Regions from separate parts of the Homo sapiens genome. Here regions 1, 2, 3, 5, 6 and 7 are each linked to region 4. Evidence: fine-mapped expression QTL. A gene starts in region 4. Each other region holds a variant in brackets. All regions are shown on one strand. Distances are from middle to middle.

Evidence for each region. PIP is the estimated chance that this variant, and not a neighbour inherited with it, causes the effect.
Region 1: its variant is fine-mapped to the expression of TBCD in nasal epithelium (TOPMed, PIP above 0.99).
Region 2: its variant is fine-mapped to the expression of TBCD in whole blood (INTERVAL, PIP 0.98).
Region 3: its variant is fine-mapped to the expression of TBCD in whole blood (TOPMed, PIP above 0.99).
Region 5: its variant is fine-mapped to the expression of TBCD in whole blood (TOPMed, PIP above 0.99). The same link has a PIP of 0.9 or more in breast, cerebellar hemisphere, cerebellum, lung, skeletal muscle and skin.
Region 6: its variant is fine-mapped to the expression of TBCD in whole blood (TOPMed, PIP above 0.99).
Region 7: its variant is fine-mapped to the expression of TBCD in whole blood (TOPMed, PIP above 0.99).

What each region holds. Positions count from the first base shown.
Region 1 is chr17:82,926,201-82,930,264 of GRCh38, forward strand. TBCD (tubulin folding cofactor D) reads left to right here. Exons shown (of 39, transcript NM_005993.5): 28 at 200-291; 29 at 986-1,123; 30 at 1,705-1,788; 31 at 2,913-3,071; 32 at 3,162-3,300. Among named protein-coding and RNA genes, the nearest start is that of ZNF750, 88 kb to the left of the region's middle. The variant C/T (reference allele first, on the strand shown) is at 2,452.
Region 2 is chr17:82,663,666-82,667,729 of GRCh38, forward strand. RAB40B (RAB40B, member RAS oncogene family) reads right to left here. Exons shown (of 6, transcript NM_006822.3): 2 at 831-891. Among named protein-coding and RNA genes, the nearest start is that of MIR4525, 2.6 kb to the right of the region's middle. RefSeq lists an enhancer at 677-1,177. The variant A/C (reference allele first, on the strand shown) is at 1,565.
Region 3 is chr17:82,932,112-82,936,175 of GRCh38, forward strand. TBCD (tubulin folding cofactor D) reads left to right here. Exons shown (of 39, transcript NM_005993.5): 34 at 547-624. Among named protein-coding and RNA genes, the nearest start is that of ZNF750, 94 kb to the left of the region's middle. The variant T/G (reference allele first, on the strand shown) is at 1,752.
Region 4 is chr17:82,750,212-82,754,265 of GRCh38, forward strand. It overlaps TBCD (tubulin folding cofactor D), which reads left to right and starts at 1,854. Exons shown (of 39, transcript NM_005993.5): 1 at 1,854-2,166. The coding sequence starts at 1,983. FN3K (fructosamine 3 kinase) reads left to right here. Exons shown (of 6, transcript NM_022158.4): 6 at 206-985. The coding sequence ends at 544. RefSeq lists silencers at 1,046-1,405, 2,096-2,415.
Region 5 is chr17:82,918,708-82,922,771 of GRCh38, forward strand. TBCD (tubulin folding cofactor D) reads left to right here. Exons shown (of 39, transcript NM_005993.5): 24 at 1,849-1,911; 25 at 2,794-2,870. Among named protein-coding and RNA genes, the nearest start is that of ZNF750, 81 kb to the left of the region's middle. RefSeq lists an enhancer at 1,151-2,350. The variant AG/A (reference allele first, on the strand shown) is at 1,720.
Region 6 is chr17:82,792,607-82,796,670 of GRCh38, forward strand. The region is part of intron 7 of TBCD (tubulin folding cofactor D); the gene reads left to right. Among named protein-coding and RNA genes, the nearest start is that of TBCD, 43 kb to the left of the region's middle. RefSeq lists an enhancer at 1,205-1,925. The variant G/C (reference allele first, on the strand shown) is at 2,317.
Region 7 is chr17:82,878,631-82,882,694 of GRCh38, forward strand. The region is part of intron 14 of TBCD (tubulin folding cofactor D); the gene reads left to right. Among named protein-coding and RNA genes, the nearest start is that of ZNF750, 41 kb to the left of the region's middle. RefSeq lists an enhancer at 4,055-4,064. The variant A/G (reference allele first, on the strand shown) is at 2,082.

The sequences.
Region 1 (4,064 bases), 180 kb after region 4:
GAGAGGCTGGAGGTGACCTCTCCCCGGGTGTCCTTCCTGGGTTGTACCAGGGGCCATGGATGGCCGTGAGGAAGGTGGTGCCAGGAGCTGCCTATCTCATGGTGTGGGGTCTGTGGCTCCGGGCCAACATTGCCACCTCCCTAAAGAGTGCACTTTGTTATAGCTTATGGTTCTTCTGTGATTCTTTATTGCTTTCCAGGTTCTCACAGGTTTAAGAGCAGTTACCCACACTTCCCCCGAGGACGTAAGTTTTGCTGAGTCCAGGAGAGACGGCTTGAAGGCCATTGCGAGGTGAGTCCCAACAGTTCCTCCCTAAAGTCGTAAGTCTCTGAAAGGCCAGCAGATGAACGCTAAGGGGGATGTTTTTGCTCAGAGGCAGGACTTATGATTCTTCACTTCCTAGGTTTCCTCTCTTCCAGAGGATCGTCAGTCCCAGCTGCTGGAGGCTCTTTCATTCTCTTGCTGTCATAGTCGTAGTGAATGTTAAACTTCTTTAGGGACACTGGGCCCCTTGGAGAATTGGAGAATGTGTCCTGGCCCAAGGTTGGCAAAGAGGAGCTGACCCTGCCAGCCAGTGTTTGGAATGATCTCTGCACTCGTTGACAGACACGCACCTGGGGCCACGCCATATGCCCTCTCCTCCCTGCAGGCACACAAGAGGAGCAGTCCCGCGGGGGCCACGCACGCCCCCTTCTCTCCTATGCCAGCATCCGTTCCCTCTAGTCAGGGTGGGAAGTGGGAGGGACCAGCCGCAGGGGGCGTCCCCATCCACCTTTCAACCGGAGAGACGGCAGAGCGTGACCTCGGGGAAGCACGTCCCACGTTCCATACATGTGGAAGGAGCTCTGTGTTTCTGATCTACCCGAGGGTCCTGGACTGTTCTGAGCGTGTCTTCTCAGGATCAGGAACACACATCAGCCCTCTGCGATGTGGAAGATGAGGCTCACCGATGTTTGTTTGTTAGCTCACACATTTTAAATTTCAGGATTTGCCAGACTGTTGGTGTGAAAGCAGGAGCCCCAGACGAAGCTGTGTGCGGAGAGAATGTTTCCCAGATTTACTGTGCGCTGCTGGGCTGCATGGACGACTACACCACGGACAGCAGAGGGGACGTGGGCACCTGGTACGTACGTAGCAGTGGGTGAGCGCTTCTTCTGAGAAGCCCATCTATTCCGTGGAAACTCGGAGGCCCCGGGCTTTTCTGCAGGGAGAAATCTTTGTAGATTTGTGCCGTGTTTTGCGTTTTAAAGGCTCTGGGGAAGATGACCTGTTCTCTGCTCCCGGGTGAGCCTGCGTGGCAGGGCTTTGCAGGTGCTTGTCCAGCCCGTCCTCAGGTGTTGGGCCTGTGTCGTCCTCGTTGACAGGGTGTGAGGGAGGACGCGTCTTCAATGAAAGGCTGCCGGCTGCTTACATTGGGTTTTGCCAACATTTCTTGCTGTAGTGGGATTGATAACCCCTGAAACGCCTGTGTGTGTAGGATGCCTCGGGGCCCCGGTGTGTGTGGCTGTGGGTGGCTCCCTGCACACGTCCCTGTAGCGCACAGGGAACCTCTGCAGGCCCCGTGACTCCCTGGCAGCGTGCCTGGGCTCTGTGTGGGGTTAGTCACGGGTGTCGAATTCACACAGGCTGCCGGCGTGGTGGGCAGAACCAGGGTTGGAACCCCCCTCTCAAGCTGGGTGTCTCTGCCTCTCCTTGTCCCATCAGGGTCCGCAAGGCCGCCATGACCAGTCTGATGGATCTGACACTTCTGCTGGCTCGGAGCCAGCCTGAGCTGATCGAGGCCCATACGTGAGTGTCACGTCGCAGCTCTTCTGCATCCTAGAGGGCAGCCCCGAGCTTGGGGAGGCTGGCGGGGCGGGCGGTCCTGGTGCTCAGTGGCATTTGCACTGCTGGGCACACACCCTCCTCCCAGAGAGCCTCTCTGGTCCCTGACCCCAGGTTTGTGCAGGCCCCTCCTCCTGCCCCCATAGCCATGGCGTGAGCTGGGGCCCATCCTCCTCTGCCCAGTGCCCCCAGGACGAGGCTCTGCTCCCCAGCCTGGGCCTCCAACGGTGCTCTGGCCAGTTTGATGACAGCCAGCTTCCCGGGGTAGGGCCGGGCAGGAGGTGGGGACTTCTCAGCTTAGGACCCTGAACCTGGGGGTCTGCTCCTGCCAGGACCAGCTGAGCCATCACTCAGTTCCCTGCACCTGAGGCTGCCATTGGGGCCTGCCCTTGCTGTGTGTCTCTGTCGGGGGCACGGGGTTGTGGGTACCCCCAGGCCCTGCCCTTTCTGTCGGTCTCTCTGTCGGGGGCACTGAGTCATGGAGGTCCAGGCCCTGCCCTTGCGGATCTCTGTCAGGGGCACTCAGTCAGGGGGTCCAGGCCCTGCCCTTGCGGGTCTCTGTCGGGGGCACTGAGTCATGGGGGTCCAGGCCCTGCCCTTGCTGTCAGTCTCTCTGTCAGGGACACT[C/T]GGCCGTGGGGATCCCAGGGCCTGATTTCCTTAGTTCTCACCTCTTTCTCTTTCCCCCTCCCCATCTCTTCCCCAGCCCCAGCTTCTCTCTCCCCATCCCCGGCCTCTCTGTCCCCATCACTCTTCTCCACCCGCTCCTGTAATCCTATTTGTTGTCCCTGCTTCAACCCTAAGACCTCATCAGCACGCATGTAACACGTAGCACATGTGTAACAAGTACGTAGCATGTATTTGCTGCGCACCTGTAGGGTTGGGCTCCTGGGATGTGAAGGTAACGGAGTGTGGTTCTTCCGAGCCAGTGTCCTGGTGTCAGCTGCCAACTCAGCCACCATGTCCCGAGGAGCCCGCATGTCCTCGTGGTGCTTGGGCTGGAGTCACGGCTCGGACCGCCTGTGCTCAGTTTACCGCCCGCTCTTAATTTACCGCCCGCCCTTGGTTTACCTCCTGCTCTCGGTTTGCAGCTGTGAGCGCATCATGTGCTGTGTGGCCCAGCAGGCCAGTGAGAAGATTGACCGTTTCCGTGCTCACGCCGCCAGCGTGTTCCTGACGCTCCTGCACTTTGACAGCCCTCCCATCCCCCACGTGCCCCACCGAGGAGAACTGGAAAAGCTGTTTCCCAGGTACTGTCGGGGTGTAGGCCCCCCGTGCTGGCCCCGCAGCCATGGCGAGATCATTGGCAGCCCGGCCTTGTCTCACTCACTCTCTTGCAGGTCCGATGTGGCCTCCGTGAACTGGAGTGCACCTTCCCAGGCCTTCCCACGCATCACCCAGCTCCTTGGGCTGCCCACCTACCGCTACCACGTCCTGCTGGGGCTAGTCGTGTCCCTGGGCGGCTTGACGGAGTCGACGGTGAGGAGGCGTCGGGCTGGCTGGGGCAGGAGGTGGCTCCAGGAGTGCCTGGTGCTTCCCTGTCTCTTGGGAGCATGTATGGAGCTGGGCCTTTTCTTCCATTGCTTTCTATCTCTCTCGGGCATATTTGGTTAGGGGGTCAGGGGCCCAGTGTCTTCCTCATGACCCAGGAGGCTTAGGGCCTGTGGGATGGTTGAGTCTGATGAAGGTGGGACAGGGCCAGCGCCACTCTCTTCCTGCGGCCGCAGCCTTGGAGCTCCCAGCGTCCCCTCGGGGTTCAATCCTCCAGGACCTGTGTCTGATGCCTGCATGTGGGTACCTGGGCTCCATCAGGTTCTAGATCGGCCTCCGCCCTCCACTTTCAGGGCTCCAGGCCCAGCTTCTCATGTCTGTGGGGAGGGTCTCCAGAGCCTTGGTCTGTGGCTGAGCTGTGGAACTTGAAGGCCTCTCTGCATCTTGTCACTCGTGGCCCCTGCACCTTGGGTCATGACCTGCTTTATGTGGCAACCCTGTGACAGCTGCTAAGTCCTAGAAAACACGTAACAGGACGTGAGGTGCCCTCTGCGCCGTGTGGGCGCGTGCGGGGAGACCCGGGCCCCAGGACGTGAGGTGCCCTCTGCGCCGTGCGGGCGCGTGCGGGGAGACCCGGGCCACATGCGAGCGGGGCCCCGAGACATTCTGCACTCGGGAATTGCGGGGATTATCAAATCCCGCTTCAGTGGGAAACGTGAGCGAAACCCAAGGTGAGTGGCCGCAGCCTTTCG
Region 2 (4,064 bases), 87 kb before region 4:
CCCGACCACAGCCCCGCTGGCACCAGGACGCTCCGAGCTCCCTGCCGGGTGCTCAGTGGCATCACTGAGCCAGGCGTGGGGGACCCAGGAGCCCCGGGCTGCCTCAACCACGCTGCATCGGTCCCCTCTTGGCATCTTCCCACAGACACCAGGCCACAGGTTCTGATCCCAAAAGCCGATTCCCAGCCACAGCGCTATGTCCGTTCTGGGGTCCCCTACTCTGGATGACGGGGGCCCAGACAACCGGACCACCACCTCCTTCAGAGAAGCCCTGGTGCAGCTGGGGCTGGGGGTGCTCCCCGGGGCGCTGTGCCGACGGTGGTGGTGGGAGGGTGTTCCCGGGGGCGCTGTGCCAACGGTGGTGGGGGAAGGGTGTTCCCGGGGGTGCTGTGCCGACGGTGGTGGGGGGAGGGTGCTCCCCGGGGTGCTGTGCCGATGTTGGTGGGGGGAGGGTGCTCCCTGGGGTGCTGTGCCGATGGTGGTGGTGGGAGGGTGTTCCCCGGGGGCGCTGTGCCGACGGTGGTGGGGGAAGGGTGCTCCCTGGGGTGCTGGGCAGATGGTGGTGGGGGGAGCTTGCTCCCTGGGGTGCTGGGCCGATGGTGGTGGGGGGAGGGTGCTCCCCGGGGTGCTGTGCTGATGGTGGTGGGGCTGGTGGTGCTCCCCGGGGTGCTGTGCCGACGGTGGTGGTGGGAGGGTGTTCCCGGGGGCGCTGTGCCGATGGTGGTGGGGGATGGGTGCTCCCCGGGGCACTGTGCTGACAGGGGGTGCTATGCCAGCCAGGGGGGTTACTCCCTGGGGGTGCGGGACGCTCGCACCTCCTCCAGACTCACCAGAGCTGCAGCTTCACCCGCCGCCCGTCCAGCAGGATGGTGGTCGTCTTGTAGTCGATGCCTGCGGAAGGGTTAGAGACGGCTTAGGCCTGAGGCTGCAGCTAACAGGACGCTGGAAGTCTCACGTTCAGGGAAGAAAAGGGTTTCTCATCAGTGCAACTTCCAGGTTTACAAGGCAGGCGGATGGGACCCCCTCCCTGTGTCTGCCCAAGCTCACAGGGGCCCTGCCTGCGCCCTCCCGCACCCGGGCCCCTCCTGTCCTCAGCCGCCTTGGCCTCTGTGGGGGTCAGGCTCGCATCACCCTGGCCCAGGGGGCTCCCCGACAGGCACTGCAGGGCCTACATGTGACCTGGAGGCCGGTGGGTTTGCCGCGGGGCTGTGGCCGCTGGGTGTGCCCCCGTCTGGGCTGGTCCTTCCCTCCCCACCTCCTCCCCAAGCCTGCAGGCCTGAGAGCTCCGACTCAGCTCTGTTTCCAAGGGAACGGGGCTAAGGCAGCGGCTCTGCAGACACTGAGACTGCGTCCCCCAGTATCACACTAGGAAAGTACAGTAAAGACAGACGTGACGCTGCGTGGGATGCCCGCTCTCAGCTGTGTACATGTGCATGTGAACCACGCATGTGCAGGGACACGGGACTGCACACCCGTCCCAGCCACCTCTGGGGTGCAGATTACAGGTAGGCTGGAACCTTCTTTCCACATTTCTATTTTTTCAAGTTAAAAACAAACAAACAAA[A/C]AAAAAACCCGAGAATGCCTTTCTTCTTCTTTTTTTTTTTTGAGACAGAGTTTCTCTCTGTCGCCCTGGCTGGAGTGCAGTGGCGTGATCACAGCTCACTGCAGCCTCCACAGCCCAGGCTCAAGTGATCCTCCCACCTCAGTCCCCTGAGTAGCCGGGACTACGGGCATGTGCCACTAGGGCCAGATAATTTTTGTATTTTTTTGTAGAGACGGGGTTTCGCTATGTTTCCCAGGCTGGTCTCAAACGCCTAAGTTCACACAATCTGCCCGGCTCAGCCTCCCAAAGTGCTGGCATTACAGGCATAAGCCACCATGCTGGAACACTTCTTCTAAAATAAAAAGCTACAATTAAGGGCTGGATGCGGTGGCTGACGCCTGTCATCCCAGCACTTTGGGAGGCTGAGGCGGGTGGATCACTTGAGGTCAGGAATTCAAGACCAGCCTGACCAATATGATGAAACCCCATCTCTACTAAAAATTCAAAAATTAGCCGGGTGTGGTGGCGGGCTCCTGGAATCCTAGCTAGTAGGGAGGCTGAGGCAGGAGAATTGCTTGAACCCGGGAGGCGGAGGTTGCAGTGAACTGAGATTGTGCCACTGTGCTCCAGCCTGGGCGACAGAGGGAGACTCTGTATCAAAACAAACAACAAGAACAACAACAAAAAAAAAAAAAAAAAAAAAAAACTACACTTAAAAAAAATCTTTTTTGAGACAGGGTCTCCCCCTCGCCCAGGCTCTAGTACAGTAGCACAATCACAGCTGACTGCAGCCTCTACCTCCTGGGCTCATAGGCACACCACTGCACCTGCCACCACACCTGCCACCGCACCTGCCACCGCACCTGCCACCACACCTGCCACCGCACCTGCCACCACACCTGCCACCGCACCTGGCTAATTGACAGGGCATTGCTGTGTTGCCCAGGCTGGTCAACCTCCTGGACTCAAGTGATCCTCCCACTTCAGCCTCCCAAAGTGCTGGGATTACAGGCATGAACCACCATGCCTGGCCACAATACATTTTTTTTTTTTGAGATGGAATTTCGCTCTTGTTGCCCAGGCTGGAGTGCAGTGGTGCAATCTTGGCTCACTGCAACCTCGGCCTCCTGAGTTCAAGTGATTCTCCTGCCTCAGCCTCCTGAGTAGCTGGAATTACAGGCATACACCGCCACGTCCAGCTAATTTTTGTATTTTTAGTAGAGATGGGGTTTCATCATATCAGTCAGGCTGGTCTTGAACTCCTGACTTCAGGTGATCCACTTGTCTCGGCCTCCCAAAGTGCTGGGATTACAGGCATGAGCTGCTGCTCCCGGCCAATAAATATTTTTAAAGGGAAAAATATGTTTCCCCGCCCCCATCACCCCCCAGACACCAGTGTTCTGCTTCTTTAGGAAACATCTCCTGTGTTCACTTCTAGCGCTTCCGGATGAGCACCAGGTCTGTCATTGAGAACATGGAAAGAGAGGGTTTGAGTTAAGGGGCTGGAGAATGCCGGGTAGGAGCACTGCCTTCCTAAAACCAGGTACAATGACACGTACAATCACAGGAACCCAAACTGCTTAGTAACAAGACATGACCAGCCTTTGTGGGATTTGCTTGATTTATTTCATGTATAGGATTTACTTGACAGTATCTCTCAAAGCACTAAACCTACAAGAGACAAGCCCTGGCCTCACTCTCGGCTGTGATCGGATGTTGAGTGCTTTGACAAGTATGGCTGAATAGGGAATCAGAATTCTAAAGGGAAGCGCGCCGCTGAGAGGCCGAGGGGAGAAGCAGCGCCGAGGCTCGCACCAGACCTCACCCTGGAGACCGTCGTGGAGCACACGGCCTCTGCAGCTCTCCTTCCAGAGAAGCCCACGATGTAGCCAGTGAGTGCCCAGAAACAGGCTCCTCTAAAAATGCGAGGCTGCGGAGGCCACGGTTCTCAAGCAGCTTCTGCCCCCTCGAAGGGTCTAGAACCCTTGGACTTGGCCACAAGCCCCCCTGCATCCCAGGAGGCAGTGTGCCGAGTTCCTGGTCTCCTGTCGGGCAGAGCGAGGTGTGCAGTGGCGGTGCCACCGGTGGCCTCCCACTTGGCTTGGACAGCTGGTCGCCCACATCTTCAGGCAGGCCTGGGCGTTGCAGCAGCTCTGGGCCTCTGTCCTCCACTTTCCACTGATGCAGCCATGAGCACGTGCATGGCACACCTGCCTGATCTGAGCACACCTGTGCAGCGCCTTCCATGAGATCCCGAGCACCCCTCCCTCCCACAGCTGCTGTGTCCAGCCTGTCCCCTGCCCTCTGCTTCCTCCTCCGGGCCCTGCCCCCTTCCTGGACTCCAGAGGCTCTTTCTGTGGTGCCACCAGAGCCCCAGAGACATGGAGTCCAGGCTTCCCGCATCCTCCTCTGTCTCCTGCTAAACTCCACACTCTGTCCACAGAGACTGCCCATCACGCCACCAGGTAGATTAGACCAAGCAACACCAGAGCAAACTCCCCCCGTCAGAGGAGAGTGATTC
Region 3 (4,064 bases), 180 kb after region 4:
CTTGTTCTCTGAGGCACAGATTTTTCTGGTGTGTCTAAGACAGCTTGCCTAATCCGTGGTCACTGAGATTTTCTGTTTTGTCCTAGAAGATTTATAGTTTTGGGTTGTGTATTTAGACCTGGGACGCGTCTTGAGTGAGGTTTCTTACATGGTATAGCGTCGGCACAGGCACCTTGACGCCCAGCGGTGCCCACCCCAATTGCTGGGAGGGCTCCCCTCTCCGCTGCATTGCCGTTGCAGCTTTGTAAGAAACTGTGGGTTTACTTTGGACTCTCCTGTGCCCGACGTGTTTGCTTCACTTTGCACCAGGGCCGTGCTGTTTCTATCCCTTCCACTTTACCATCATTTTCGAAGTTCAGCGTCAGCCTCCAGCCTTGTTTCTTCTTTCCACAGTTGTTTTGTCTTTTCCTGAAGCTTTGCGTTTCCACGTAAATTATAAAGGGGGCTTGTCGCTTTCCACTGGGATCCTGCTGACTCTCAGCCATTCAGGGAGTTGGGCGTCCTTGTTGCTGGTGTCCAGGGTCTCACAGCTCCTTCTCCCCTCAGGGTGTCCGTGCCGCTGCTGAAGACGCTGGACCACGTGCTCACCCACGGCTGCTTCGACATCTTCACCACGGAGGAGGAGTGAGGCTCTGCTTTTCATGACTTCCTTTCCGATTAAGCCTAAGTAGCTCATGTATTAAAGAAAAAGTCATCAGACACAGAGATCAGAATTCCAGGAAATGATCTTCCAGTGCGTTCTGGGTCAGTTATGGTGACTGTAAATACCGTCATCACAGCTGGCCCTCAAAATAACGCAATAATAACATATTTACATAATGACATATTATGACTGTAAGTGCAGTCAGCCCCATCTGGGGCTGAGGCGGGGGCCCTGCTGTGCACTCTCCCCCCAGCTATCCCACCGGGCCAGGGGTGGGCCTCAGGGTTGTGCTGGGAGCCGCAGGGCCTGAAGGGGCCTCGGCTGTACGGGGATGAGACTCGCAGGGGAGAGGGCAGAGGCCGGTGACCTGGCGAGGACTTGCCCAGGAGATTGGAGCTCCTTGCTTCTGCGCCACGCGGATGCCCCAGGCTGGTCTCAGCTGGGTTGTTGGCTCTGAGTGGTCATCTCGTTGCTGCCATATTTTCTTGCTTCATTGAATTTCACCGTGTTGGGCCAGTCTTTTTTTTTTTTTTTTTTTGAGACAGGGTCTAGCTCTGTTTCCCAGGCTGGAGTGCAGTGGCACAATCACAGCTCACTGCAGCCTCTACCTCAGCCTCCCAAGTATCTGGGACTACAGGCATGCGCTGTAGTCTAATGTACGGCTAATGTTTGTATTTTTAGTAGAGACAGGATTTCACTATGTTTCCCAGGCTGGTCTTGAACTCCTGGCCCCAAGTGCCTGCCTTGGCCTCCTAAAGTGCTAGGATTACAGGTGTGAGCCACTGCGTCTGGCCTGGATATATTTGTATCTGGGGCACGTTGGGTCATCCGGAGACAGCGTGGTCTGTTTTTGGGGGCACTGCTTTTTTTTTGTTTGTTTTGAGATGGAGTCTTGCTCTGTTGCCCAGGGTGTAGTGCAGTGGCTCGATTTCAGCTCACCGCAACCCCGTCCCGGGTTCAAGCAGTTCTCTCGCAGACTTCTGAGTAGCTGAGATTACAGCTGTGCACCATCACACCTGGCTGATTGTTTGTATTGTTAGTAGATACAGGGTTTCACCACATTGGTCAGGCTGGTCTCGAACTCCTGACCTCAAGTGACCTGCCCACC[T/G]CGGCCTCCCAAAGTGCTGGGATTACAGGCGTGAGCCACTGAGCCTGGCTTGGGCGCTACTCTTAAGCTGTCAGGTGGACCCAGAGCTGTGCTGGTCTCCAGGGTTTTCTGCCCCTTTAAGGTCTCTGCTCCCTGGCGCTTCCCTTCCCACCGCTGCTGGGGCAGTGCCGGGGCTTCTGGCCATCTTTTGGGTGGTTCGTCCCCAGCCTTGGACAGCGTCCTCGTACTCAGGTACTGGCTGACCCAGGCCCAGGTTAGTCCTCAGCGGCCCCCAGGAAGCCCCCTCTGGTGCTCAGAACCTGAGCGAGCTCTGCAGACTTGGAATTTCCCGCTTCTCACCACGGGCTTCCCGCTGGAGTCTGCCACCTGCTGGACTTGGCTCTGCCTTAACCTTCGGGCGGGAGGCAGATCTGGTCTCTGTTGCTCCATCTTTGCTGGACGCTGCACATGTTTTTAAATCTAACAGCATTGAAGGGTTTCCCCTTTTAATTTCTTAATGGGGCATCACTGACTGACCTTCTTACACCTGCTGTTGGAACAGCCTCCATGTTCACAGGTGCACCCAGCTCGGTTGTGGCGTATTATCCTTTAATACAATGCTAAATACTCCATTTAAATTTTTTTTTTGAGATGGAGTTTTGCTGTTGTTGCCCAGACTGGAGTGAATTGGTGCGATCTCAGCTCACTGCAACCTCTGCCTCCTGGGTTCAAGTGATTCTCCTGCCTCAGCCTCCCTAGTAGCTGGGATTACAGGCATGTGCTACCATGCCCAGGTAATTTTGTATTTTTAGTAGAGATGGGGTTTCACCATGTTGGTCAGGCTGGTCTCGAACTCCCGACCTGAGGTGATCTGCCCACTTCTGCCTCCCAAAGTGCTGGGATTATAGGCGTGAGCCACCGTACCTGGCCTAAAATATTGACATATATTTTTCTGGCTTAAAAATTTCAAAATAAGCCTGGGCGCCATGGCTCACGCCTGTAATCCCAGCACTTTGGGAGGCCAAGGCGAGTGGATCACTTGAGCTCCGGAGTTTGAGACCAGCCTGGCCAACTTGGTGAAACCCCATCTCTACAAAAAATACAAAAACATTAGCCGGGTGTGGTGGTGCCTGTACGGCTTGGGCCTGGGAGGCGAAGGTTGCCGTGAGCTGAGATTGAGCCACTGTGCTCCAGCCTGGGCAACACAGCCAGACTCTGTTTCAAAAAAAAAATTTTTTTTCCAAGATAGGATGGTAGAGAAAATACCTCCTGCCATGTCCTGCTATGAATACAGCTTTGTATTTCTCTCTACAGTTTTGTCAGTTTTGGCTTTTCAGATTTTGAAGCGTGTTTGTGGGCTGAATCTTGCCCTTATCACCCATTTCTAGGATGCTTTTTGCTCCACTCATTCTTTGTCTTGCTTCACTTGACTTTGAACTGTATACTTTTTTCCATCGTTTTACTTTCAGTATCTTCATACATGTATGTTTTTGTACGCCTCTCTTAGAACAGTGTATGGTTTTGTAAAAATTCAGCCTGTAGCTTTTACCTGCCTCCTTCATGACCTTTATAATCCCCTTGGTTCTCAGCCTGCCACTCACAGGACTTTTCCCTGTGCTGCGTTCCCAGTGCCCCCTCCCCGCCCCCACCTGTGCTTTTTGTTGGATTAGTAGAATTGCTTTTGTCATTCCATTGTTTTCATATATTTGTTTGGGACATTTTACTTTTTTCTGTTAACGCTTACCCTAGAAATTAGAAATGACACCACGTATTCTTAGCGAAGTCCAGTTTTCAGCATTTTGTCCTTATTGGACAATAGCAAGGATATTAGAACGTGTTGGTTCCGCGTGCTTCCGTCTTGAGTTATGTGCTGCTATTGTCGGATATTTTGTCTTAGATGTACGTACTTTCCTGTTCATTGTGGTATGTGTAATTTGCGTTACTTTGAATTTTCCACGTTTTTACTTTCTTTGTCTCTCATCACTTACTGCTTTTGGGACCCCCCCCATCGGGGTTCACATTCCCTCTCCCTAGAGCACACTCCCTTGGATTTCCTCGAGTGGGGTCTGCTGCGGTGAAGCTTTCCCATTTTATGTGCAGATTATTTTCAGAGGGTATATAGAATTCAGGCAGCTGTTTCGTTGTAGCACATTAAAAATATTTTCCCACTTCCTCCTTGCTTCTGTTGTTGCTTTTGAGTGTTACCTCTGAGTCTGCCTGTGCTCCCTGGAAACGGCCCGGGTTTCCCACCCCCTGCCCAGGTTTGCTCCTTCCCTGGTTTTTCTGTCATTATCACGCTCACGTGTTTCCCTCGGTCACCCCCTCTGCAATTTT
Region 4 (4,054 bases):
CTAGACCTAAATTAGGAGGAAATCCTAAGTTAGACAAAGCTAGACTCCCCTGAAGTCAGGTGGCCCCTATTTCTGGGCTTGGCAGGCAGTGCTGGGGCTGGACACCGAAGCAGATCGCGAGTGGGCTTTGCCTTATTTCCAAGAACGAGGTGATGAGACCGGGGCTCCCAGAGGCCAGCGATAACTGCAGCCGTTGCTCTCGTAGGTGAAGATCCCGGATCTGTTTTGTGGCCTAGAGATTGTCCCCGCGTTGCTCCACGGGGATCTCTGGTCGGGAAACGTGGCTGAGGACGACGTGGGGCCCATTATTTACGACCCGGCTTCCTTCTATGGCCATTCCGAGTTTGAACTGGCAATCGCCTTGATGTTTGGGGGGTTCCCCAGATCCTTCTTCACCGCCTACCACCGGAAGATCCCCAAGGCTCCGGGCTTCGACCAGCGGCTGCTGCTCTACCAGCTGTTTAACTACCTGAACCACTGGAACCACTTCGGGCGGGAGTACAGGAGCCCTTCCTTGGGCACCATGCGAAGGCTGCTCAAGTAGCGGCCCCTGCCCTCCCTTCCCCTGTCCCCGTCCCCGTCTCCGTCTCCCCGTCCCTGTCCCCCCGTCCCCCGTCCCTGTGCCCCCGTCCCTGTCCCCCTGTTCCCGTCTCCCCGTCCCTCCGTCTCCATCCCCCCGTCCCCCCATCCTCCTGTCCCCGTCCCCCCGTCCCCGTCCCTCCATCCCTGTCCCCCGTCCCCCTGTCCCCCTGTCCACATACCAATCCCCCTGTCCCCGACCCCCCATCCCCGTCCCCCATCTCCGTCCCCGTCCCCCCTGCCCCGTCCCCGTCTCCGTTCCCCCGTCCCCATCCTCCATCCCCGTCTCCCATCGCCGTCCCCCCGTCCCCGTCCCCCGTCCCCGTCCCCCCTGTCCCTGTCCCCCTTCCCCCGACCCCTCCCAGATCCTGGGGACCAATAAAGCCCGCAGCGGGTCTCGGCTGGCGTCCTGCGCCTCGTTCCTCCGCTCGTGGGGCTGCTTTCAGGGCCAGACGCACGGCGAGCTGTGCACGGACGTTTTTGCGGCGATTCAGGGGAAACGCACGCGGACCCGGTAGCCAAGGCCAAAGTCGGCGCAGCGCCCACCGCGGCCTCCGGGCCCCGCTCCCGCTCCCGCTCTGGGGCGCGCCACCACTCGGCGCGGGGCCCGTGTGATCCGCGCGGGTCCCAGCGTGGCGCGAATAAGTGTCAGGGCGGTTGGCTCTGAGGGGTGGGTCCCGGGGCTCGCCTCGCGCCCCCGACTGCGTGCTCAGGCCCCGCCCCTCCCCGTCCACGCATGCTGAGGCTCCGCCCCGCTCCGCGGTCCCCCGGTCCCACCCGCCCCCGCCCCGCCCCCGCCCCGCCCCCCGGCGTGTTGTGGCTCCGCCCCGCTGTCTCCGGCCCCACCGCAAGCCCTGCCCCTCCCACCCACGCGTGCCCGGGCCCCGCCCCCGTTGCGCGCAGCCCCGCCCCCTATCGCGTGCTCAAGCCCCGCCCTGGCGGCCCCCGGCCCCATCCCGAAGCCCCGCCCCCCCGCACACCGCCTGCTCAGGCTCCGCCCCGCTGTCCTCCGGCGGCGGCCTCACCCCGCAGCCCGGCCCACCGCGTCTCAGGCCCCACCTCCTGTCCTGCCCCGCCCACCGCGTGCTCAGGCCCCGCTGAGCGGTCCCGGCTCCGCTCGCGCCCTGTGGGGTCCACGGCGCGCTCTTCCAGAGCCTTTGGGACCCGTGCCCGCTCGCGTCCTCAAGTGCACGCGCCGTCCCGCGCGCGGTATTTTGGCGGCCGACGCGTTCCGTAGCGAGGCCGGCGAGTGGGGTCGGAGGTCGCGGGGCGGGGCCAGCGTCGGTTGCCGCCTTAGCGGGCGCCTCCTTTTCATCCCTCATCCTTCATCCCTGGCTTTCGCGCTCTAGCGGAGTGGGATCTGCGAACACGTGAGGCGGGGGCGCGGTCCCCAGGCTGCCGAGATGGCCCTGAGCGACGAACCGGCCGCGGGCGGCCCCGAGGAGGAGGCGGAGGACGAGACACTGGCCTTTGGCGCGGCGCTGGAAGCGTTCGGCGAGAGCGCGGAGACCCGGGCGCTGCTGGGCCGCCTGCGGGAGGTGCACGGCGGCGGCGCGGAGCGCGAGGTGGCCCTGGAGCGGTTCCGCGGTGCGTGGGCGGCGCCGCGTGCCCGCTTCCTCCCCCGGCCCGGGTTCGGCGCGCTGAGTGCACTTTACCGGGCGGGGACCGCAGCCCGGCGGCGCCGGCCGCTCTGCGAGGGCTGCCGGTGCGCGGTCCCGCGGGCCGTGGTGGGGCGCGGCCTTCCTAGGCGGGAGAGGGCCACCCCGGCGCGGCGTTAGGTGCACGGGGCAGACGCGCGCCTCCCTTGGGGGGACCGTGGCCCGCGGAGCGCCTGCTCTCGCACGGGGTGAAGCCTCTGCGGCCTCCCCGGGAGGCGGGGTGCAGAAGCCCTCCGTCCCCCGTCTCCGTCACTGGAGGAGGTCCCTGGGCTGGGGAGACTCGGGCCAGACCCCTCCGGACAGCTGGTCAGCCCTGCAGTGTGGACTCCCAGGCTTGCCTCCACCGAGCGCGGTTTCTGTGAATGTTGTGTGGACAGGGAGATAGGGAATGAGAGAGGGGGACGCAGGGAACAAACCTGCTGCAAACAAAGCGCGCCTCGGGTGGGGAGGGCAGCAGCCTGTCCGTTCCGTGGACGCCGTGGACAGAGCGGGCTGGCCGGGTCCGTGCCTCTGCAGGCGGGGTGGGGTGTAGGTACCCCTGTGGAGGCCATTCGATGAGTCTAAATTCTCCGAGTTCAGACCCACCTTTACCGCTGTCTATAATGGGTTATTTCCAAACAAGTCCTTAGGAGCTCATAGCTAAGTAGTTACATGGGGTTTTGTAATTCAGTAAAATCATCTTTGTAGACCCTTTGAGTAAGAAGAACTTTTGCATTATTTGGCCTTCCTCATTTTAGAATGACAGCGCTTTGATTTTAGGAGTCAGGCAGGGTGGGGGGCCTTGTGGGAGGAGTGCGGGTTCGGCGTCAGATCCTCCTGCCTGTGAATTCTGGCCCTGTCGCTTGGACCTGATACTTGATTGCCTGTTTCTTCGGGTGTAAGCTGGGGCGGATAACGATGCCTCTCGTGCAGAACTGTTCTGAGGGTGAGGGACCCTCATCCAGGGACCAGTGAAGCCAGATTTTTTGTTCCTGGTGTAACAGCCCAATGGCTTCTTCCTTTTTTTTTTTTTTTTTTTTTTGATACGAAGTCTTGCTCTGTTGCCCAGGCTGGAGTGCAGTGCAGTGGTGCGATCTTGGCTCACTGCAACCTCAACCTCTCAGGTTCAAGCTATTCTCCTGTCTTAGCCTCCCGAGTAGCTGGGGCTACAGGCGCGCGCCACCACGCCCGGCTAATTTTGTATTTTTAGTAGAGGGGGTTTCACCATGTTGGTCAGGCTGGTCTCAAACTCCTGACCTCAAGTGGTCGCCCGACTCAGCCTCCCAAAGTGTTGAGATTACAGGTGTGAGCCACTGCGCTCGGCCCCAGTGGGTTCTTTCTGCGGGCTGCCCAGATAGAGTTGATTTGTCAGGGCAGGGGAGTTGCCATGGAGAAGATTTAGTTCACGCAGAGCCGGTTGAAAGGGAGACTAGACTAGAGGTTTTTTTTTTTTTTTTTGAGGCGGAGTCTCACTTTGTCCCCCAGGGTGGAGTGCAGTGATGAGATCTCAGCTCACTGCAACCTCCACAACCTCCACCTCCCAGGTTCAAGTGATTCTCCTGCCTCAGCCTCCCGAGTAGCTGGGACTACAGGTGCGCGCCACCACGCCCACCTAATTTTTCGTATTATTAGTAGTGACGGGTTTCATCGTGTTAGCCAGGATGGTCTCGATCTCCTGACCTCGTGATCCACCCGCCTCAGCCTCCCAAAGTGAGCCACCACGCCCGGCTGGAGTTTTATTATTACTCAGATCAGTCTCCCTGAGAATTTGAGGGCCAGGGTTTTTTAGAGGTAATCTGGGGGAAAGGGTGGGGGTGGCTGATTGGTTAGGGGTATAC
Region 5 (4,064 bases), 170 kb after region 4:
CGTGAGAGGCTGAGGCACCGCTGAGCCGCGCGTGCCGTTTTTAACTTGATTATAAAATACATTTAAAGTTCACATGCAGGTGCATCTCCAAGAAAATTATTTTAAAAACTAGTTAAGACTTTCATTTCCCAGTCCTCAACACACATCAGAGCAGTACTCTGTTCAGAGCTGAAAGGATTCGCGCTGGGACAAAGGCGTGTCACTTGAGTGAGTGATGGTGTCACAGGTGCCCACGTGGAAGAAGGTAAAGTCGTATCTAAAACTAAATGTGAGAGTAACTAATAACTTACGCATAAAAACTACCATCATAAAAATCCTCGAAGAAATTTTAGGAGACGTTGTAGGACAGTGTCAGTCTCTGAAGAAAACTTCTTAGTTTAGAAATTTTCAAATCTGCGCAGAAGTAAAGAGAAGTAGTTTACGGGGGGGGCCCAGAGTCTCGCCCGGCGCTTCCTTTCTCCTCCCCTCCTCTGAGTTTAAAGAAGACCCTGAATGTCAGGTCCCAGCAGCCCCTCGCTGGGTTTTTCTAACTTGTGGTAAGAACTGGTTTTCTGGGGTTTTTTGTTTCTTTTTGTTTCCCCCCTCTTGGCATGTAATCCCCAGCTAACAGATTTTATCATAATAATTCCACAAGGTAGAAACAAAAGGAGATAATTATGTTGGGCCTTATATTGAAGAATAGACCATGTGTAGGTTGGTAGGGAAAACGGAGATTGAGAATAAACGTCTGTTCTACAGTCGAAAAGGTAAAAAGTTAATTAGTGTACAAAGACTAAATTGTAAAACTGCCTGTGACGAGGTAAAGGATCCAGTATGAAATGGGGCAGAGCAGACGTGTGGGCATTTCATGCAGAAGAGGAGCAGACTCACGTGGCCGTGGACGGTGAGGGTGCCGGCCTCACCTCGGAGGCATGGAAGTACCAGGTTACTTCACATCGAGAGGACCGTTTTCCTCTTTCCAGTCGGCTGCGGTTGGCACTGAAGAATCTTGGTGCTGACAGACACAGAGCAGGGTCTCTCGTGGAACAGGAGTTGTCTGGTCTGTTCAGTTTGATGAGTGGCAGTATCTGTGACGATGGGAAGTGTGTGTGTGGTCCCTGTCCTGTGTGCAGGGACGCCAGGTGGACCGACGGCCTCCGCATCTGTAGCACGGTCAGGCCTCCTTGTTCACGGTGACAAAAAATGGAAGGAGAGTTTAGTCCCTCAGGAGAAATAGCAAATACCATGAACAAGTGTGCAGCAGGCGTCTGCGAGTGGGTTCCGTTGTTAGGTAGAGACGGTGGGAGCTAGAGCAGTGTGTGGCCGTGGGAGCTGCTGATGCTGTCCAGTCGTCTCTGTCTCGTGCGTCCTGGCCCCCTCGTGGCTGGTCAGGGCCACGTTTCTGGTCATGGAGAGTGTGAGTGACGAGCTATGTGGGGAAGTGACAGGCATGACCTGTGGTCTGGAGCATTGCAGGTGATGGCTGTCTGTCGCTTGGGTCCTGAGTGACAGGTCTAGGAGCAGAAGCCGCTATGCTTCCCGTACAGCCTGTCACAGGGACGTCTGCAGCTCCCTGACAGGCCGGCCCGGCTTCTCTGAAGTGCACGTGGGCTCACACATGGGCCTTCTGCCACGTGGCTGGGTCTGCAGCACTTTCTTCAGGCTGCTCAGCGGAGGAGGCGTCTTGGGCTTCTCATGGTGGTTCTGAAATGGTTCTGGGATGTTTCCAGCCCTGGCAGC[AG/A]GGTAGGTTGGGCGGGTGAGGGGCAGGAGCTGGCCGCACACAACTCAGAATGTGGCAAAGGCAAGCCGCTGTGGCAGGCGCTTTTAGAAAAGTAACATTGCGTCTATCCTTTTTTTTTTTTTTTCCAGTGTGTGTTTTAATAGAAAAGTTGTCACTTTCCAAAATGCCCTTTAGAGGTGACACCGTAATTGGTAAGTGCTTTTGTTTTTAATAATAGCATTTTCTTACAGAATGACTTCAGATTAAAAGGTAAAAATGAACCTGTTAGGATGGGGGCGATAAACGATTATAGCTTAAAGGTTCAAGATATTAATCGGATACGTTGCCTTGAAGTTGTTACAAGAACCTGCTTAAATAATGGGTACCCACCGCCCTCTCCCCCCAACACAGGAGGGCCCTTCCCCGCCGTCACCTCAGTACCCCCACCTCCTCGCTTCCATGCCCAGGGCCCGGCACTCTGGGTCAGTTCTTCTCCCAGGCAGACAGTCGGGAGCTGCAGCCACCCAGGCCCTCGTGGACCAGGAGCGTGCCGGCCGCCGACACCACGGACCCTGTGGGCAGAGGCGGCTCCAGTTCCTCAGCAGCCCCCCACACTGGGCTGCCAGAGCACAGTGAAGGGAGCCCCCAGGGCTGTGGTGTCCCGGGGCTGTCTCAGCAGCCTCAGAAGTTAGGACTTTTTTTTTGTTAATTGAATAGCCTTCACATTTGTTGCTTGTGCAGGATCTAATTGAGTTAAAGATTTGGGTTTATATTGGTGGGAGCCGGGGGAGACCGTTTGAAGGAAAAGATTTAGGGGTAACAAAAGAATAAAAGTTTCCCAAAATGTGATGTATAAAAATTTACAGAATGCTGGTATTTCCCTCAATAAGAGCTTACACAATTTAACAGCCATGAGAGGAAGGGGCCTTAGACTTAACACAACGTGGAGAATGTTCACTTTGGCTTTTCCACAGATTCCTCTCAAAGGTTACCATCGACTTTAAGATTAGTATTAATAGAAGCTGTTTTTGCTGTTGTTTTTGATTTCATGGTGTTTTTGATTGCCTGGGTACGCTAACTTGATTTTTTGACAGATGGTTGGCAATGGCTGATAAATGACACTTTGAGACATCTCCATCTCATCTCAAGTCACTCCCGCCAGCAGATGAAGGTACAGTGAGCATGGGCGTTCCCGGCCGGCGCTGTGGCGGTGTTAGTGTGTTAGTCACGGATGGTGTTTGTGTTGGCGACTGTGCATCATGAGGCTGTCCCTGCAGTAGCCTGATAACTGACAAATGGGGGCATAATTCTATTTGGAATCCCGGATGGTAGCGTCTACACGGTTTATAACCAGAAAATCCAATACAGCCATTGGAATCCGAATGTTTAATTTTTTATTGCTTCTGGCTGTTTTAATTATAGTTACCTTTGAAATACTTTTTCTGCATCAATAGTAACTGTGCTCTGTTGAGTTCCGTGTCCTGTAGGATCTGAGGTTTGGAAACTCCCTTTATGATGCTCCTGTGCAGATGAGAAAACAGCACCCCAGGACCTCTGCTCGCACACATTGACCTGGTCATGTTGTGTGGGTGCCAGTGTGTGTGTGTGTCCCCGGCCACCTGCCCTCCCCTCCCGTCCTGGGGGTTACAGGTGGACTTTGGACTCACAGAGCTGTAACGCTGATCTCATTGCATAGATAAGAAACCATGGGCCCGGCGCAGTGGCGGGTGGATCACTTGAGGTCAGGAGTTCGAGGCCAGCCTGGCCAACATGGTGAAACCCCATCTCTACTAAAAATACAAAAATTAGCGGGGCGAGGTGGCGCGTGCCTGTAATCCCAGCTACTCAAGAGGCTGAGGCAGGAGAATTGCTTGAACTTGGGAGGCGAAGGTTGCAGTGAACCGAGATCACGCCATTGCACTCCAGCCTGGGTGACAAGAGCAAGACCCTGCCTCAAAAACAAAAACAAAAACAAAAACAAAAAAAACCATGGTTACCAACGTTGACTAGGTTTTGATATTGAGGATGAAGAATGGAAGTACATTTAGGTGTCTTGTAATTCTCTGACTTCCTCCATGCTTAGCATTTCTTTTTCCTTAGCATCTTCAATTTTCTTATTTTTTTTTTCTTAAGGAACTTGAACATTCTGTAGGATCCAAGTACCGTTCTACTAATTGAATTTGAATGCATCATGATCAGTGCCTCAAAATTTTATTTCAAAAGTCCATGATTAATTCACACTGGCCATGATGCTGGTGCACTTTGCCCCTGGGATTGGCACAGGTGGTGACTCGTGGAATGCAGCACCCTGTAGACGACGCACCTCCTCTGCTCATGGCCCCCACCTGCCCCGCCCCCAGTGCCT
Region 6 (4,064 bases), 42 kb after region 4:
AGGACATGGACCCAGGTCAGGGGCTGCCAGGTCGGTGCTGGGGTGTGGAGCTGGGCCTTGCATGGCCCCCACCTGTGAAGGTAATTAGTGTTTACCTTACAGTCCAAAGTTTGGTGAAAAATAACACTTCGTTCTGGAAAGATAAAAGCTAGATGTGATTATTTCGATCATTGAAGCATTTTTGTGTGAAATTACCTTTTTTTTTGGCGTCAGTGGCATGATCTCAGCTCACTGCAACCTCCACCTCCCGGGCTGAAGTCATCCTCCCCCCTCAGCCTCCTGAGTAGCTGGGATTACAGGTGGACGCCACCACACCTGGCTAATTTTTGTACTTTTAGTAGAGATGAGGTCTTGCCATGTTGTCCGGGCTGGTCTGGGACTCTTAGGCTCAAGTAACCCTCCTGCCTTGGCCTCCCAAAGCGCTCGGATTCTAGGTGTGAGCCACTACACCCAGCCTGAAATTAGTTTTCATTTTGATATTTGTTTTCTTAAAATTCTTTATAATTTGTCAGAAATTTATTTTGTCAGAAACAGTATATTTTTTCACTCTGGGGCTCTGATTCTAATCAGTCATTTACCAATCCAGCAATGAAAGTTTTCACTTCCGTCAATGGCTTTTTTCCTCTGAATGTGTGGTGGTCCTGAGGGGAGTGCATTTTGCTCGCTCCTGGGGGAGGCAGTGGTCTGGCCTGTCCCCACCAGTGCCCCCTAGGCCCCGCCTTGAGGACAAGCTCTCTTCTGTTTCTGAGCGCTCTCCCGTCCTGTCTAGGGCAACTGCTGCTCTTTCTAGGGGTGGTAGTGGGGCTCTTTAAGATGTCCCTCGCTTTGATTTTTGCAGGCCAGCAAATGCACTGGACGTTGTGGTTTTTCTGGCCTCCAGTAGTGGTGTGGTGGGAAGGTTCTTTTCCTGCCCTGCTGCTGAGGGGAGCCTCGAGCGTACCAGAGTTCCTCAGTGAAGCCTTTGCACGTCCTGCAGGGTGCAGCCCAGCATGGGTTTCACTGCCCTCCAGGAAAGGCCTGGCCCTGGTGGGCTCGCTGCAGCACAGGCACGGACCTGGGGCTGTGCTCTCAAGGCATTCCAGCCTGGAAAGGGTTGTTTTGGTGTTAAAGATCCTCTTCCGTGCCTGTCCTGTGGCCCCTCTGTGTGGCATGCCCAAGAGTGGCTTTGAACATGGCTGCCCTCCGTGTGCTGAGCCTGCGGGGGCACGGCTACCCTCCGTGTGCTGAGCCTGCGGGGGCACGGATGCGATTGGTTGCTTCCCAAGATACCATTTCTTGGTGTCGGAGCAGGACTCGGGATGGCAGAAAGGGGAACAGACTCGCTCTCCTCATCTGCAGAGTCGGCATGGTTATGTGGGGCCACAGGGTGACCCGCTGGCCTGGAGCTAGCGTGGTCTCAGCCATCTGCCTCAGTGCCGGCCGGCACTCACAGCTTCTCAGAAGCCTGTGTTACCAGCCAGAGCCAAGCCTGAACTGGTGTGGTGTGGGGGCCCTTCTCCCAGGGCCTCGGGTGGAGTTGCTTTTCTTGGCCTAGATTTGGCAGTGCCTGAAGGGAGCCTCAAACCAGCATCTCCTGCTTGGCAGCGGGTGAGCTTGCTCCCGAGTAGCTCGACAGCCTGTGATTTACTGGGCTTGGAGAACATGCCCCAGGGGGGGGAAGCTGGCTCGCACGTTGCAGAGAAGCCAGCTTGGGTGGGTAGCCATCGAAAGGTGGGGCGGGTTAGGATGATTGCTGAGAAACTCCTTTTGTTTGCAGCTTGTGCTGTGCTGGTTTCTAGAACAACAAAAACAGACCTGCAGTCATTCCTCATTTACCATGCAGGGCTGTTTTCCTCTAATCCCTGGTGTCATCACCTCTGTCTAGTGTATGCTTTTCAGCAGGTGGTTTTAATTTGGTTCCCATTATGCTTCCATGAAAGTGGGCTGTGCCCCCCATTTTATGGCCTAGCTTATGAGCACTCAAGACCATTGATGACTAGAGTGCGCTCTCTCTGGCCGCGTCCTCCTGCTGACAGGTACCCCATCCCACCGCCACGCTGAGCACTGGCCACTGCACACTGCACACTTTCTCTGGTGAAGATGGCCTTACTTTTCAGTGAAATAAATGGAAACAAAGCCCTGTCTTCATTGACTCGTTCCTTCCCTGTCGTCTCTTTTGCCCTCCTGCACCCATGCCTGGGAAAGTGGATAACTTTTGGGGCTTTTCTCTGTGTGTGCTGAATGCCCAGGAGGCTGCCTGTGTAATTCAGCTGGAAACTGTCCCCAGGGTAGAGAGAAGTGTGAGGAGAAAAAGACCCTTCGCCCTGTAAATGTGTG[G/C]GGTTCTGGTTTCTCCCTTACTGCAGATGGTGGCGGGCCCTGGCCTTGGTGCTGTCTCCTGTGTGTAGCTGGGGACGGTGGAAGCTGGGCTGGGCCTTTCCAGGTGTGGGGCATCCAGGCCAGTTACAAGAGATGATGCTTGCTTTCCCGAGAACTCATCACCACTTGTATCTTAGTCTGCTGTAGAGAATGTTGTACTACACTTCATAGGAATTGAGTAACTAAACAACGTTCATGTGTGAGGGCACTCTAGGAATTTCACAGTGTCTTGGATTCTTTTTATTTAGTGAGAGAAACCAGACGACGTGTTAGCCCGTTGCCAAGTAAGACTGGGGGACACGTCAGCCTGTTGCCGAGAGAGACCAGGGGACATGTTAGCCCGTTGCTGAGAGAGACCGGGGGACACGATAGCCTGTTGCTGAGAGAGACCGGGGAACACGGTAGCCTGTTGCTGAGAGAGGTCATTTCCCGGATCTTTGTCCTGCGTCCGCCCACAGCTGCACAGCTGCTCTTCTGGTTTAGGTTCTGGCCTTTCCCACTGGGGTTTTCCAGCAGCCTCTGTAGCGGTCTTCGTTGTTGAGCACTTCACTGTTCATCCCCAGGTTCTCCATCCAGCTGCTGTTGGAATCTGGTCATGTGGCCATGGCTGCAGGTGATACGGTGGTGCTCTTTGCCTGTAGGATGAGATTTCAGCCGCTCGCAGGTTCATTTGTTGTGGAACAACGTACTCCACAGCTGGTGGCATCAGTGACAGCCGCACTCTTGCGTGGATCGATTCTGTGGCCTCGCAGGGTGGGGTGCAGGGGGCCGTTTGTTACTGCCCTTTGATGCCTGGGCCTCTGCCGAGAAGACCACGTGGCAGGTGCCTTGAAGGGCTGGGTGCGGCAGGGGCCCTTGACTGAAGCTGGCTCTTCCTGCATGGCAGCCGGCTTCCCGGAGGGAGTGTCTCAAGGGGAGGTGTCTGGAGAGGCCCTGAAAGAGGCCGCCAGGCTTCTGACCTGGGATTGGGGGTCACTGGCATCACTCCTGCCTGCCTCTGTTGGTTGTGGCAGTTGGAAGCCTACCAAGGTGGTGGGTGAGGGACCCTTGATTGTCCGTCTGGCAAACTCTGTTCCCCACTGAGCTGGCCAGCCGGCTGCAGTGACAGCTTCTCTGTGAAGTGTCTTGTCTTCTTATCCCCCAGGCGCGGTCCGGCTTCTCGTTGCACACTGGTGGGCTTCAGGCCGTCAGCCCACCTCCCAGGGAATTTGAGTGTGTGCTTGGCCCTGCGACTGCCCCCGAACCCCGCGTCCCGTTGCGGGGAGCTCGCCTGTGCCCCACGGTTTCTGCTCAGCAAGTGTTGGCTCTGTAAACCGATGACTTAGGGTTAAAACACATATTAAATTAGATACATCTGGACTGGTGTGAAATAATTTAACTTTCGATTTTATATTTCACACAAACTAAAGATGGGGAAGAGTTCTTAAAGTTAAATGAGAACTTGTTTTGGGCAAACAAGGATCATCTCCATTCACTTGGTAGGGAACGTGTTACTATCCATTTCGCTAAAGAGAAAGGGGCTAAGTCTCTGATCACCTTGGTGAATGTGTTATTCTGAGTGGCTCAGGGAGGTGGGTGCTGCCACTGCCCCATTTTACAGACAGAGGAACAGGAGCGCAGAGACCCTGCTCTGCTCCACAGGCGTGACTGGTGGTCTGTCTGGCTGTCTCCTTCCTGTTTTGATCGTAGGTGTGGGATCTGCACCACAG
Region 7 (4,064 bases), 130 kb after region 4:
GGGGCCTGCCAGGTGCCTCCACTTGAGGAGACTGTGTTTTCCTCTGTAACTAGCAGTGTTCTTGTGGGGTACTCGAAGGTTATGCAACATCCTGCTGTTTCTCCTTTGGTTTTCACCCCATCCGAGCTCTGTCCAAAGACCTTGTTGTGTGGTCTGGTGGTGGTTCCTGTGTCCCCACCCCGACGTTCAGTGATTGCAGCTTGTTCTTAAGGAAGGCTCGTTCCTCTCCCAGCTTTATTTCATCATTCGCTCCTGCCAGTGTGGACTCATGGGTGCTCATCCTGTTTGGGGGTTATCATCTAACACTATTGTTACTAGTTTTGTTTGAGTTATAATCTAACACTAACTATTGTTATTAATGTTGCTCAAATTGCTCCAGCTTTGGCCACTTCAGGTTGGCTTCTGTGTCCTTTCAGCAAGATCCTGTTCTTTTTTTTTTTTTTTTTTTTCTTTTTTCCTGAGCCTTTTTTCTTTCCTTCTGGCACCACAAGATGCACCTGGCTTATCTTTTTGCCCCTGCCCCAGCCCTAGCATCCACCACTTCCCAGGAGTCTCACATCCTCTCGGTGGAGAACAGTATTTGGAATCCAGGACGCCGGGCTTGGCCTCAGCTGCCTCTAGGTCCCCTCCCTCTGTAGCTGAGTGTGTGCCCCTCTTCACAGTCCATGTTTGCACAGACACCAGCTCTAGCCCAGCTTCCTCCTGGCCTCCCTTCGTGTGCCGCTTCTGGGCCTACTGTGTAGCACGCTCTGCTGCCGTGCGTCTGCCGTCATGCATCTGACGTGATTTTGGAGCTGCCAGCCCACACCTGTGTGAGCAACAGACTCACCACTCAGGGTGGGACGCTCTGTGCATCCTCCTCACCCTGGGCATAGCGTTGCCAGGCCATCGCTCGGGTGAGCCCTTCTGGTGCTGCTGGTCTGGGATGCAGACAAGTCTGCCGGTTCCCTCTGTGCTGGTCCGGGATGCAGACACGTCTGCCGCTTCCCTCTGTGCTGGGCTCCCCAGGTCTGTGATTGTTGCTTCTTCAATCTGCATGTGGTTGTGTTCTACAACTCAAGCACCAAACAGGACAGTCCGTCTCCCCCAAAAACTCCCCAGTCTGCTCCCCAACCCTGGGCCAACATTGGTCTGATTTTGGTCCTGATAGTTTACCATTTCTGGAGTGTCTTATAAACGGAAATAATCAGTAGGCTTTTCATTCTGGCTTCGTTGACTTGGCACAGTGCCCTTAAGACTCATCCCAGTGATCTTTCCTTTTTTTTTTTGGAGTGGTGTATTGTTGGACGGACCTGGCGGTCACAGGCCTACCTGTCTCCTTGGGTGTCTCCAGTCCTTTCTGGAGGCTCAGGGGGGCTCAAGGGAAGACTCTGCTTCCCTGCTTGAGTTGCCCGCATTCCTTTGCTCATGGGCTCTTCATCTACCTTCACAGCCAGCCACGTCCACGTCTCGCTTCATCCTTCACGTACCCTATGCCTGTGGTCCTTTCTTCTGCCTCCTGTGTCTGTCCTTCCTTCTTCCTTCCTGTATGTATTTATCTCCTTACCTGTCTACTTATCAGTCTGTCTAGATGGGGTCTCGCTGTGTTGCCCAGACTGTACTCAAATTCCTGGGCTCAAGGGATCCTCCTGCCTCTGCCTCCCACAGACAGATGGAGCACAGGTGTAGCCAGGGCCGCTGGTGTGTACCACTGTGTTCGGCACCCGCTGGGCTGCAGGAGTAATCCAGGGCCCTCTCCCCATCTTAGGGTCAACTGATTGCCAACCTTAATTCCCCTTTGTCAGGTAAAGGAACATGTTTGAAGTGGGACACCCTTATCTTTGGGAGTGGGTATTATTCTGCTGAAGACAAGGGTGGGGACAGATATGCTGTGACCAGGGTAGTTGGGCTTATGACTTTGTTGTTGTTTACGTGGAGGAACTGAAAGACCTGGGTGTGCTGCTGGATGCCCCAAGGATCTGGCAGGAGGAGGCATCCAGGCCCTCAGGGCAGGTAGCGGGTGGGCCTCCGTGGTGTTGGGAGGTGCTGGGCCCGGAGGTATCAGCAGGAACTGCAGGGTCCCTACCGCAGGCTCCCCACAC[A/G]GTGACACCTGTCTGTCCGTCCGTCTGTCCACAGGAGCAGGAGGGGCTGGGCGGGGAGGACGCAGGGTCTGTCGGAGCATAGCAGTGGCCCGTACGTGAGGGACTTTGTTGTTGCCGTCTCCCCAGGGTGCAGAGCGTGGTGGTTTGTGGCCATCCTTGCAGTGTGAGTGAGCAAGTGGCCGAGGGGTAGACTTTGGATGGCTCCAGGCGGAACTCGGGGAAGGAGGCCGTGTACTCCCATAGCTCTGGGCTCTGTTTGTGGCTGTGGCCACACAGGGCAGGGCCTCAGGGCAGGGAGGCCAGTGCTTTTGGGAAGGGCCTCCCCCAGCCCTCAGAAGCCTCCCACCCTATTCCCCTTGGGCTCCATCCTTCTGTTTTTTTTCTGGCTCTGGTTCCTGGCGTCTGTTTGCAAGGCTGGCTGGACACTGCAACCACCTGGGCTTGCTGCTGTGGCCTGGACGCTGGGGTCTCTCTCGGCCCGGTGGTGAGCTGAGAAGCGGCCCTGTGGTAGAAGAGGGCCTTTCCACGCTGAGACCACAGATTGTCCCTGCAATAAGCAAACATTTCTCTAAAATGTGAGATAAACGCTTTATCCACTGGTGATCCGTGGTTGTTAGTAATTAAACCAAGTAAACGGTAGCTCATTCGGTCAGGCCGCTTGCCGCCGATGAGGGGTGCAGAGCTTCTGCAGCATCCTGGGGAGGTCCCGGAACGTGGGTCTGGGCTGTGCTGATGCTGGAGCAGCCAGCGGGGAGAGCTGCCAGGCCACTCCTGACAGCCCCGCACCCGCTCTGGATGGAAGCTTCTCGCTCCCAGCCGATACGGGCCTGCTGCCTGCTGCTGGGGCTGGAGGGGCCCCTCTGCTTGAGCCTTGGGGTACCCCGTGCCTACGTGCCCTCCTGGCTTTGCCCATGGTTGGTGGCCGTGTTTTGGGCTGCGTTGATGTCGTTGTGGAGCCCGCTCTGGGCCTCGGCACGTCTGAGCTTGATTGGGGTGGAAAATGCACCTGGTGGTTTGTATTATGTTGTTTCTGTTTTATTTAATTTCATTTGCCATTCTTATTTCAAAAGATGCTTCCTATGTTTATGCTATATTGTTAGTTTAACTTCCTACCCTTTCCATCTATGAATTTCTGTTTTTATTGTGGTTCTCAGTGACCACACTCTAGGGGTCCTTTCTCTCTCTCTCTGTCTCTCCCCCCTCTCCCCTCCTCCCTTCCTCCCTCCCTCCCTCCTAGGCAGAGCCTGTGAGACTTGCAGGCATTTCCCCAGAACCCAGGCCCTCTTGGCCATCTGGCTGCTGCCCCACCCAACCTTTGGCCTCTCCTGGGGCTCCTGGATGGTTGGGCGTCCCAAATCCCCATCAGCAGAGCACTTGGTCACAAGGCCCGAGTCACATGCCCCAGCTTCTCCGAGGAAGTGCAGAGTCCAGCCGCAGGGAGGACTTTCTCAACCGGCCCTGGGGCCAGCTGTCCTGCTCCTCCTTGTTTGCTGTGGGCTCACCTCTGTGGGCTGCTCACTCAGACCCACTCGCACCCATGGGACCTTCCCACCTGTTTCTCCTGCCTCCTTCAGTCTGTGCCCAGCACCCCGCTGTCAAGCCCATTCCCCCCCAGCCCCTGACGTTGGACATGCTGGAGGAGACTGTGGCCCTGTGGCGTGTTCTGGGCCATCTCCAGGGCCTGGAGCGGGCACCTGTGCCCAGCACTGGAGGCTGGGGGACAAGTGCTCTCTCTGATAAATGCCCCCGAGTTTCAGTTCTGTGGCTGTAGTTTGTAGGTCTCCTAGCTCAGCATCCCCGAGCCCATGCCCTGGGGACTCATGGGGCCGAGGAGAGAGGAGCGCAGAGAACATGAGGATACGTGAGCCCCTTGCCTGAGAGGTGTGCTGTGAACCTGGAGAGCAAGGCCAGTGGGTCTGGGGTGACAGACAGTGCGAGATGCAGGAAAACAGGCTCGAGATGCTGTGAATCTGGAGAACAAGT